Linked DNA regions of Homo sapiens: region 1 is linked to region 2. The links come from fine-mapping of genetic effects on plasma protein levels. A gene starts in region 2. The other region holds a variant in brackets. All regions are shown on one strand. Distances are from middle to middle.

Region 1 (4,000 bases), 53 kb before region 2:
TCGAGCAGCAGGGAATACAGGCGCCCACCACTATGCCCAGCTAATTTTTGTATTTTTAGTAGAGATGGGGTTTTGCTGTGTTGGCCAGGCTGGTCTGGAACTCCTGACCTCAGGTGATCCACCCGCCTTGGCCTCCCAAAGTGCTGGGATTACAGGTGTGAGCCACTGTGCCCGGCCACCTGAAGTTTTTATAAGGCCCTTGAGAACTCTGGCACTTTGTTGTGGTTGATCAGAGCCATGCAGGTAGTCTCATAGGTCCTTCAGTCCACAAATATTGAGGGTCCACCCTGTGCCATGTTATGGGGGCCTCTGTCATTTTGCTCAGGACTCTACTCTGAGGTGGTCCTGTATGGCTTGGATTATAAGAGACAGTCGAGGAAACAAAAGATCTGCATGCTCTCCTTTCACAAATTCACTAAAATGTCATGGCAAAATATTTTGAGCACTCTACCTCACATAAACTTTCTAGTTCACAGTCTGGTAGGTTGACATGTCTCTAAATATTTGTTATTTTCTGATTGAATCCTACCTGAACCCAGTTAACTGAGATACACTAAATCATAGCACCCTTTATTTGAAACAATACTGTAGGATTTCAAAGATCCATCAGTGTCTAGAAACTAGCAGGTATCTGTTGAATGAATGCTGCATTTTCTTCAACTCTGGGAGCCTGGATTAACTTCTACAAGTAATAGCACTGTTTCTATTTTGGTTACTTTCTGGCTACTGTCCTAGTCATTTTAGTTACCCTGATGCTGCCCCAGCGACTCAGCCCAGCCAGCACAAACTGTCCTGCTGGCTAACTGGATCATGGCTGCTGGTGGCCTATCGTATACTAGGGCTGAGAGAAAGAAGAAAGAATAGGGATGTCTATCCTTTAGGAAATGCAGTAGCATATTCTGCAGCCTTTTCCATTTTATTCATTTTGCTTTGGTTTGCTCAGAAGTATCAGAGCAAAATAGAAAATCAAATAATTGGAGCGCTCATCCTTATTTTCTCCTTGCCCAATCCCCATCCATAGTCTCTGGATGTGTCCCAACAAGGTGCTTACTGCTGAGCCACTCTGTATCTTTTCTGGAAGTCGGGGAGGTAAGGACAGATAAACAATGACACTAATTTTTCATCATCTCCCTATTCCTATGTTGCTATCATTCAACCAAACACCTACTGAGCACCTACTTCTGGCCCAGGTAATACACTTGGTCCTGAGGATACAAAGATCATACAGTTCCTCAGAGAGTTCGTGGTCTCCTGGGGGATGCAGAGAAGTAAAAATTCAGAGGAAAGCCCAGGAGATGTGTGAACCTAGAGGAAAGAGAGTTTAACTCTGCCTTAGGTGAAGAGGGGGTCAGTCCTCTTCATGGAGGAGAATTTTTATTCATTCTGCTGGCTGGACAGCAAAGATACCAGGCATAAAATCGAGGTTCTTATTTTTCCAACTTTAAAATCTACTCCACAATGGTCCCCATTTACTGTCAAAGCTGGCTTGTGTGTGATAATACCACTAATATAATCATGCCATCCTCTCACTCCTGCTCACTTTACACTTTATATCTGAAGGTCACAGTACTAAAAACTGGCATGGGTGTTTTCCAAGGAATCTGGTTATCAGGCTTGACTACAACTCTAAAACTGAAGATTAAAAGACAAGTTAACAGGCACTTTATAGGATGAGTATGGAGTCGGAGCTGTGATGGGCAGAGGAAAAAATCAGCAGCACTATGTTAAGCATATACCAACCAATGCCCAAAGCTGAAGGTAACTTATGATTTGTTTTTCTTAGGGGAGGACTTGTTTCACCTACCATGTGGAATGTTCCTGGGGCCTTGACAGGTCTGAAGCCATGAACAGGTATGCATTGATCAGCGTGGCCATTGCAGAAGCAGCTGCCCTTGACAATGAAATCATAGATTGCATAGTGTGTAAAATGTTGAGGCTCTTCGTTCAGGTCATTTCTCTGACAGGGACAAGACTGTCGTTTCAGCAGCTGCACGCGAAGGTTGGTGATCTTCAGCTGCTCCTGAACTTTGGCACTGTAAGGGTTCTCTGTATCGT[A/G]TGGTGGTGACAAAGCTTTGAAAATAACCTGTAAGGAGAAAGAAAATACCATGCGTTTATAGGACTGTGCGCAAACCCTGAATTGTTTGCCTAATGTAGTCCCTGTTTGATTTATGCCTTATGTCATCTGTGAACGATAAGATAACAAGAAGTTTTTAGACCTTGAGCACACCTGGGACAGAGCCGCCCTGTTATTCTAAGGAGCAGATGTGCTGCCTGTTTGTACACAGAAGTATACATTGAGTGACCAGCAGAGACCTGACCCTTGAGATAAAGGCAGCCATACAAAGATCTTGCCAGGAAGAGCATTCTGGGCGAGGGAAGAGCAAGCTTAAAGGCTTTGAGGCAGAGTCAAGCTTGGCTTGCTCAAGGAAGAACAACGAAGTCAGTGTGACTGGAGACCAGTGAACAAAGAGAGAGTGGCTGGAGAGGCGGACAGAGAGCAGGTGTGAGATAGACATGAATGGAGCCCTGTGGAAGTCACAGTAGAGTTATGCTGACTGTAGCGGAAGCCACTGGGACACTGTAGGCAGAGAGGTGATATCTGATTTACCTTGCCTAAAAATATAACTCTCTCTTTTTGGATATAAAAGTATCACCTTAGAGATCAATTTCATACCAAAAGTATGAAAAGGAAAGAATCGACTGTGTCACATGTCCAAGGTCTACTGGTACAGACCTGTCCTCAGTGAAATATAACTGTGGGGGAGAGGGTAATAATTCAGCAGACATTTGGCCTCTGCAGCTCATGGTCTAGCCAGTAGCCAGAGTGGTTCTCTATAAACAGAGATTGGATCGTGTCACTCCCTTGCTTAAACCACCCCCACCTGAAGACCTCCCATTCTCCTCAGAACAAGATGCAAGGTCCTTATAATGGCTCTGCCTGGTTTCTGTTCTTAGTACTTATCACCATCTGACATTATATTTGTAGTGGTTTAGTGATTTACTATCTTCCCAGTCCAGACCAAAAACTTCATGTAGGCGGTCACGTATGTATCCCAGGACAGTGGCTGGCACATAGTAAGTATTCAATAAATTTTTGGTAAACAAATTAATTAATTTAACATTGTTCTTGGCATTTGTGTAATAGGTGAGAATTCCAAATAACTTCCTTATGTCGGGTCTAAATTCATTCGCATACTGAATTTCACGTTAAACACCAGTATTATGACAATAATAAGAAATAACGGATTAACCGGTATTTGTATTTCTAGCTATTTTTGAACTTTTAAAGCTTAAACAACATTGTATCTTAAACTCAAACCACATTCTGTCCCATTTATCCACATGCAAAGTGGTGGAAGGAAGCTTATCAGAAAATAAAATTTTCCAACAAACAATATGTCATATATTCAAAAGTCAGTACAGAAGTAACATCTTTTTCTTTTAACAACAGCTAGAACATGATTTTCTGTTTCGAAGCATTTTTTAAAAATTGAATCCATTATGGGCTTTATATGGAACTGATTCTCAACGTGACCTCCAAACACTGACATTTCTGTTAGACAGGAAGAACCCTTGCTCTAAATGATATCAGTAAAGTGCTACCTCCTATTTTATCAACCACAGTAATGCAAGGACATGGAAAAGGACACACCAGTGCTAACCAAGTAAGAGCTCCACTGAAAAGTCTGTGGTGTCCTTCTCCTCGTTATCTGCCCACCCTTCCTTTTCCTGAGCCTCGGTGGCAACTGTTTGGTCTCTCTCTGTCTCTGCCACGTATTTACCCTTGACATTTACCCTAGTTCCCTCTCTCACCCCATTCCATCTCCCCCTCACCCTCAGAATTGTTCCGCACAGGCAAAGCCAGAGGAAGCTCTGTCAAGGTCTGTAGGAACTTTGAAGCTCTTCTGCTTCCTGAGCCCAGACAGTGGGAGCTGAATGGCGGCTCTGTGCTTGGTGTGCATGACACCACAGTTGGCACGCGGATATCAGTAGGGAAGGG
Region 2 (4,506 bases):
TTCTGTTTGCCACTTTTCTCATTAGCTGGGGCAACAGTTGCTTGTGGCCAGAAGCACACAAACACACAATGTGCTATGACTCACCTGTAAAAAATTTCAAGGAAAATCATATACTGCCTGTACAAGTATTTTTGACTTGAAACACTTGCCTTGTGATGTTTATTTACAACCTTTCAATGGCTTGCATGTTTTTGCCATAATATGGTTTGAGAAGGAAAAGGTTTTTTTTAAAGCTCATATTTTAAGAGTGCAAGAATTAAAGTAAAATCTTAGGCCTTTAATAGGTCCCTGGGAAAAATATCCAATAATTTTAAATGCCCCTAAACTCCTAAGTCCAGAAAAGATTTGAGCCAGATAAAGAATCCATGGGGCAAAATACTTGGAGTCACTCAAGGGACTATTCAATGATACTAAGGATGCTCCTGTGACTTGGACTGGTTTGGGATGCAGACTGGAAAGCCTGGATTTTGCTGGGTGCCAGCGGCCCTCAGGGAAGAGTGGAAGCCCAAGGGAGGAGATGCGTGCTACAATGTTCTGTAGCCACCAGCGCATCCCTCTAGCCCAGGCGCCCCTTTCTGAAGCAGTCAAGATCCGCACGAGAGACTGGATGTCTGCAGACTCCCTCACATCTCTCCCCCTCACCTACAGGGCTGCGCTTACGCCTAACTGGAAACCAGGTGACCCGCAAGAGGGAGGGAGAGGAGCAGAAGGGGCTCCCGAATACAGAAACCACGAGCCAGGAGCCGGTGGCCTAGGGCAGCCCAAGAAAGCCAGGATGGGAGTGGGAGGGAGAGGGCATCTGCCGACGCCGACGCCGGTTGTCCAGTTACCGAGCCAGGGAGCAGACCCGCCTCCGACCTCCCGCAGAGTCTCTGCCAGGGTACCAATTCCCCAGGGGCGGCCAGCCAGCTCAATGCAAGCCCGGGGTGATCACCACCTATCGTCCAAGCCAGGAGTCCCACTGCGTTCCAGTCACTGCTCCGGGGAGAGGGCGCTCAGCCCTGCCCCAGGTGTCCTTACCTGGTTCTCTAGTACCCAGCACCAGGTCAGGGACACCAGCGATGGGCTTCTACCAGAGACCGGCCCCAGCCCACGCGCGCCCAGGGTCGCTGGGCCACCCCTCCTCATCATTCCTTAGGCCATGAAGTGCCGGGGGATGGCGAGCTGGGTCCTTTGTTCCCTCACCAAGTGGAAAAGCAGTTTTTTAACAAGCCAAACCAAGAAAGAAACCCCGGTCGCAGTATCCCCGGCAGGGCGCACCCAGGATAGCTGGTTATCCAAGCGCATGTGTATCCCAGTTGTAAAAATAAATCAATAGTATTTGAAACTGCGGAGCCCCGGGGAAAGGAGGCGGAACATGGCCACTCATTTCACCCTCGGGAGCAGCGCTCTGCGCTCGCAGCCCTGGCTCCCCTGCACCCCCGAGTCCCGAGATGGGTTAGAGAAGCAGCGAGGGAAGGGGTGGGGGCCCCGCCGCGTCACCACCCACCTGCGGCCACCACCGTGCAGCCCCAGAGCAGCAGCAGCCGCGCGCAGCTCCCCATGGCCGGGAGGAGCCGGGAGCAGCCGGGCCGGGCGGGTGCCGGAGGGAGCCGAGACCTCTGGGCTGCGGGATGAAGCGCCGCCGTCCTCGGGAGGGAACGGGGCCCTGGTTTCTTCCTCCTCCTGGGGCGCCGGGCTCGGTCAGCGGTCGCCGGCAGCTGGGAGCCAGGGGCCGGGACCGCGCGGGGAGGTGGGGTGACCCTCGCGCACCGGCCTGGCGGGTCCCGGGCACCTGGGGGGCGGCGGGAGCCCCGGGACCATAGCCGGCCTGGCTGCGCTGCCCCGCGGAGCGGCCCTGCGGGCTCGTCTGCCGCTAGCCCGGGGCTCGGCGCCCGCAGCCGCCGCTGAACTTTGCGAGACCTTTCACTTCCCGGCCGCCGCCGCCGCCTCCTCCTGGGCGTCCTCCTCCGCTTTTCCCACCTCTTCTGGCTGCCCCGGCTCCGTCCCGTCCTTCTCCACGGGCAGTTCCATGCGATGCATTTTTATTGCACCGACGCCGCGGCGCTCCGGTGCCAGCCCTCCTCCCCTCGCACCTCCACCCCTTCCTCCCGCCCGCCCCCCGCGCTTGACAGCCCGGGCGGCGCAGCCCGCGGGATCGGATCGCCGCTGCCGCTGCCGCCCGGGGGGGGGGTCCCCCGCGCCCCGACCGACGCCCCCGACGCCCGGCTGCCCGCTGGTCCCGGTCGCCTCAGCCTGGCCCCCGGCTGCCCTGGCGCCCCTCCTGGCCCGCGCCCTGCATCTCCCTAGTGACCCCCCTGGTGCCCTGCAGCACCCACAGGCCTCCCCTGGGAAGCAATCTCCCACCTTCTCCCGGAACATTCCTAAGAGCAGTAGACTCCCTCTAGATCAGGTCAGGGCATGCCAAGGGGCTTAAAAAACCGCGAAACAGGCTAGCGCCTACTTCCCACATCCCCCAGCGAAACAAGCCCTCCCTCCTCCTCCAGCCACCCCCTCTCGGGGAGTCCCACGACCCGGGGACGGAACACCCCAACCCAGCCCCGCGTCACCCGCACTGAGAGCGCGCCAACTGCTAAGCGGCGTTCGCCGCTTCTCTGCTGCCTTTTGCGGGGGTAGGGGGATGTCTCGGCTAAACAATCGCTGCCTACATGATCCGAAGGTGTGCCCACTTTGGTGTAAGAGGTATTGCCTAACTCAAACTCAAGGTGCTGAAAGAAAAGGGTCACAGGATTAGCTAGTCGGCAGTGTAAGAACATCGTTGTCCAGAGGCAGGGCAAGGGCACGACAAAGGGAACTCTTCGGTCCTTCCAAGCGTTCTCCCTTTATAGAGTATGCCGTGCTGTGAAACAGTGTTAGGAACTAACTTATGGGGAGCAATTTAGTAGCAACCACACGCAGCTAATTGCAGATAGGATTGCTCAGGGCTGGTGCTTCTGGAAAGAGATTAAATAGCAGCCGAGTCTGAGATTTTTGCAAGTTCTGTGAAAATATAATTCTACTTACACATCCAGGGAAACTGGCAAAAGTTAAGTCGACAGCAATTTTGTATTGCAGTGCTCATTTTGTTCCTTTGAATATTTTCCAGAAAATTAACTACGTTCCAGATACCATTTAGTCGTTGTGTCTGTTACAGATGAGGATAATTCAGAGCTTTGGGATACATGTAGATATTATTTACAATGACCCAGCCAGGAACATATAAGAAGTTTATATCTCCCAGGGGGATCTGGGTTGAGGTCAGCATAATCCATTTGGGCGACATTAAAATTATTCTTCTGGCCAACAGAGGAAAGTAGCAGAAGGTGTGGACAGCAATTCATGTAGCATCACCTGCTTTAGAAAATAAACGCTTTGAGTTCCCAAATACTGGCAATGGTGGGGCTTTCTTCATATCTCCTAATGGAGCCATTGAAACACCTCTCCAATTAATCTTTTTACCAAATAAATGATAGGAAACTATAACAGCCAAAGGTTCTTAGCATAAATGTTAACTTAATAGCCAAGGCAAATTAAACAAAGGGGTGGATGCACATTTATTATTAACTTCTGAGTCTAGTATATTTAGGCAGAACTAATCCATTTCTGTTTTTTAATTAACAAATAAACTTGTATGTATTTATCATGTACAACATGATGTTTTGAAATATGTATACAGCGTGGAATGACTAAATCTAGCCAATGAACATATGCATTTTTGCATATTAACATGCATTTAAGAATACACTCACTGTCTTAGCATTTTTCAAGAGTACAATATATTGCTAAAAATATAGAATGCTTCACAAATTTGTATGCCATTCTCATGCAGAGGCCATGCTAATCTTCTCTGTATTGTTCCAATTTTAGCATATGTGCTGCCAAAGCAATCACAGAACTACTCCATATCTCATTACAAATTTCAAAGCCATTTACTGTCTGCACGAATCCTGCATTGATAATATATTTCTTTGCTGAATAACTGGCTCTTATTTCCTTTAACAAGACAGAAAGCTCTCTAATGGTAGAACAGTCTTTAATATTCAGTTTATACAAAACATTACTATGTTTTTCTGATATTTTTCCTTATTCTTAGCCAAGAACACCTACAATAAGTGTTCATTACATGTTTTTGACTGAGTTGTGTTAAAACTATTGTTATATACTAAGGGGCTAAGGAGACTAAGGACTAAGGAGAAAACCAGTTATATCACAATGATTTCCCATATTCAAAAGGAATCTGCACATTCGACACCAATACTATCTATATGAAAAGCTCAGGAGAGAAAAATAGTCAGCATTCTAATAAACATCATTTGCTTATATAGTCCAGTTTAGTTACAAAGGATATTTTCATTTTGAAGAAGCTATCCAAGAAAAGGTTACCTACATAAGAAAAATCTTGGATAAGTATATTATTGCCTATGATTTTGTTTTTGAAAACATCAGTCATGGATTCAGAATATTTTGTAATTTTATGAATTAGTAGGAAGCTTAGCAAACTTACAGAATTTCAATAACAATTCCCAG

The links. A credible set is the group of variants that fine-mapping cannot tell apart. PIP is the posterior inclusion probability: the model's chance that the variant is causal. Protein levels are from the aptamer-based SomaScan assay of Sun 2018.
Region 1: its variant is the best candidate, but not a certain one, in a credible set for the plasma level of the NTN4 protein (Sun 2018, PIP 0.69). The variant lies in the coding sequence of NTN4. If it changes the protein, the assay may bind it differently, which can mimic a change of level.

The regions. Positions count from the first base shown.
Region 1 is chr12:95,736,062-95,740,061 of GRCh38, forward strand. It overlaps NTN4 (netrin 4), which reads right to left. Exons shown (of 10, transcript NM_021229.4): 3 at 1,805-2,083. Among named protein-coding and RNA genes, the nearest start is that of NTN4, 53 kb to the right of the region's middle. The variant A/G (reference allele first, on the strand shown) is at 2,056.
Region 2 is chr12:95,788,766-95,793,271 of GRCh38, forward strand. NTN4 (netrin 4) reads right to left here and starts at 1,999. Exons shown (of 10, transcript NM_021229.4): 1 at 1,490-1,999. The coding sequence starts at 1,544. It also overlaps the pseudogene RNU6-247P.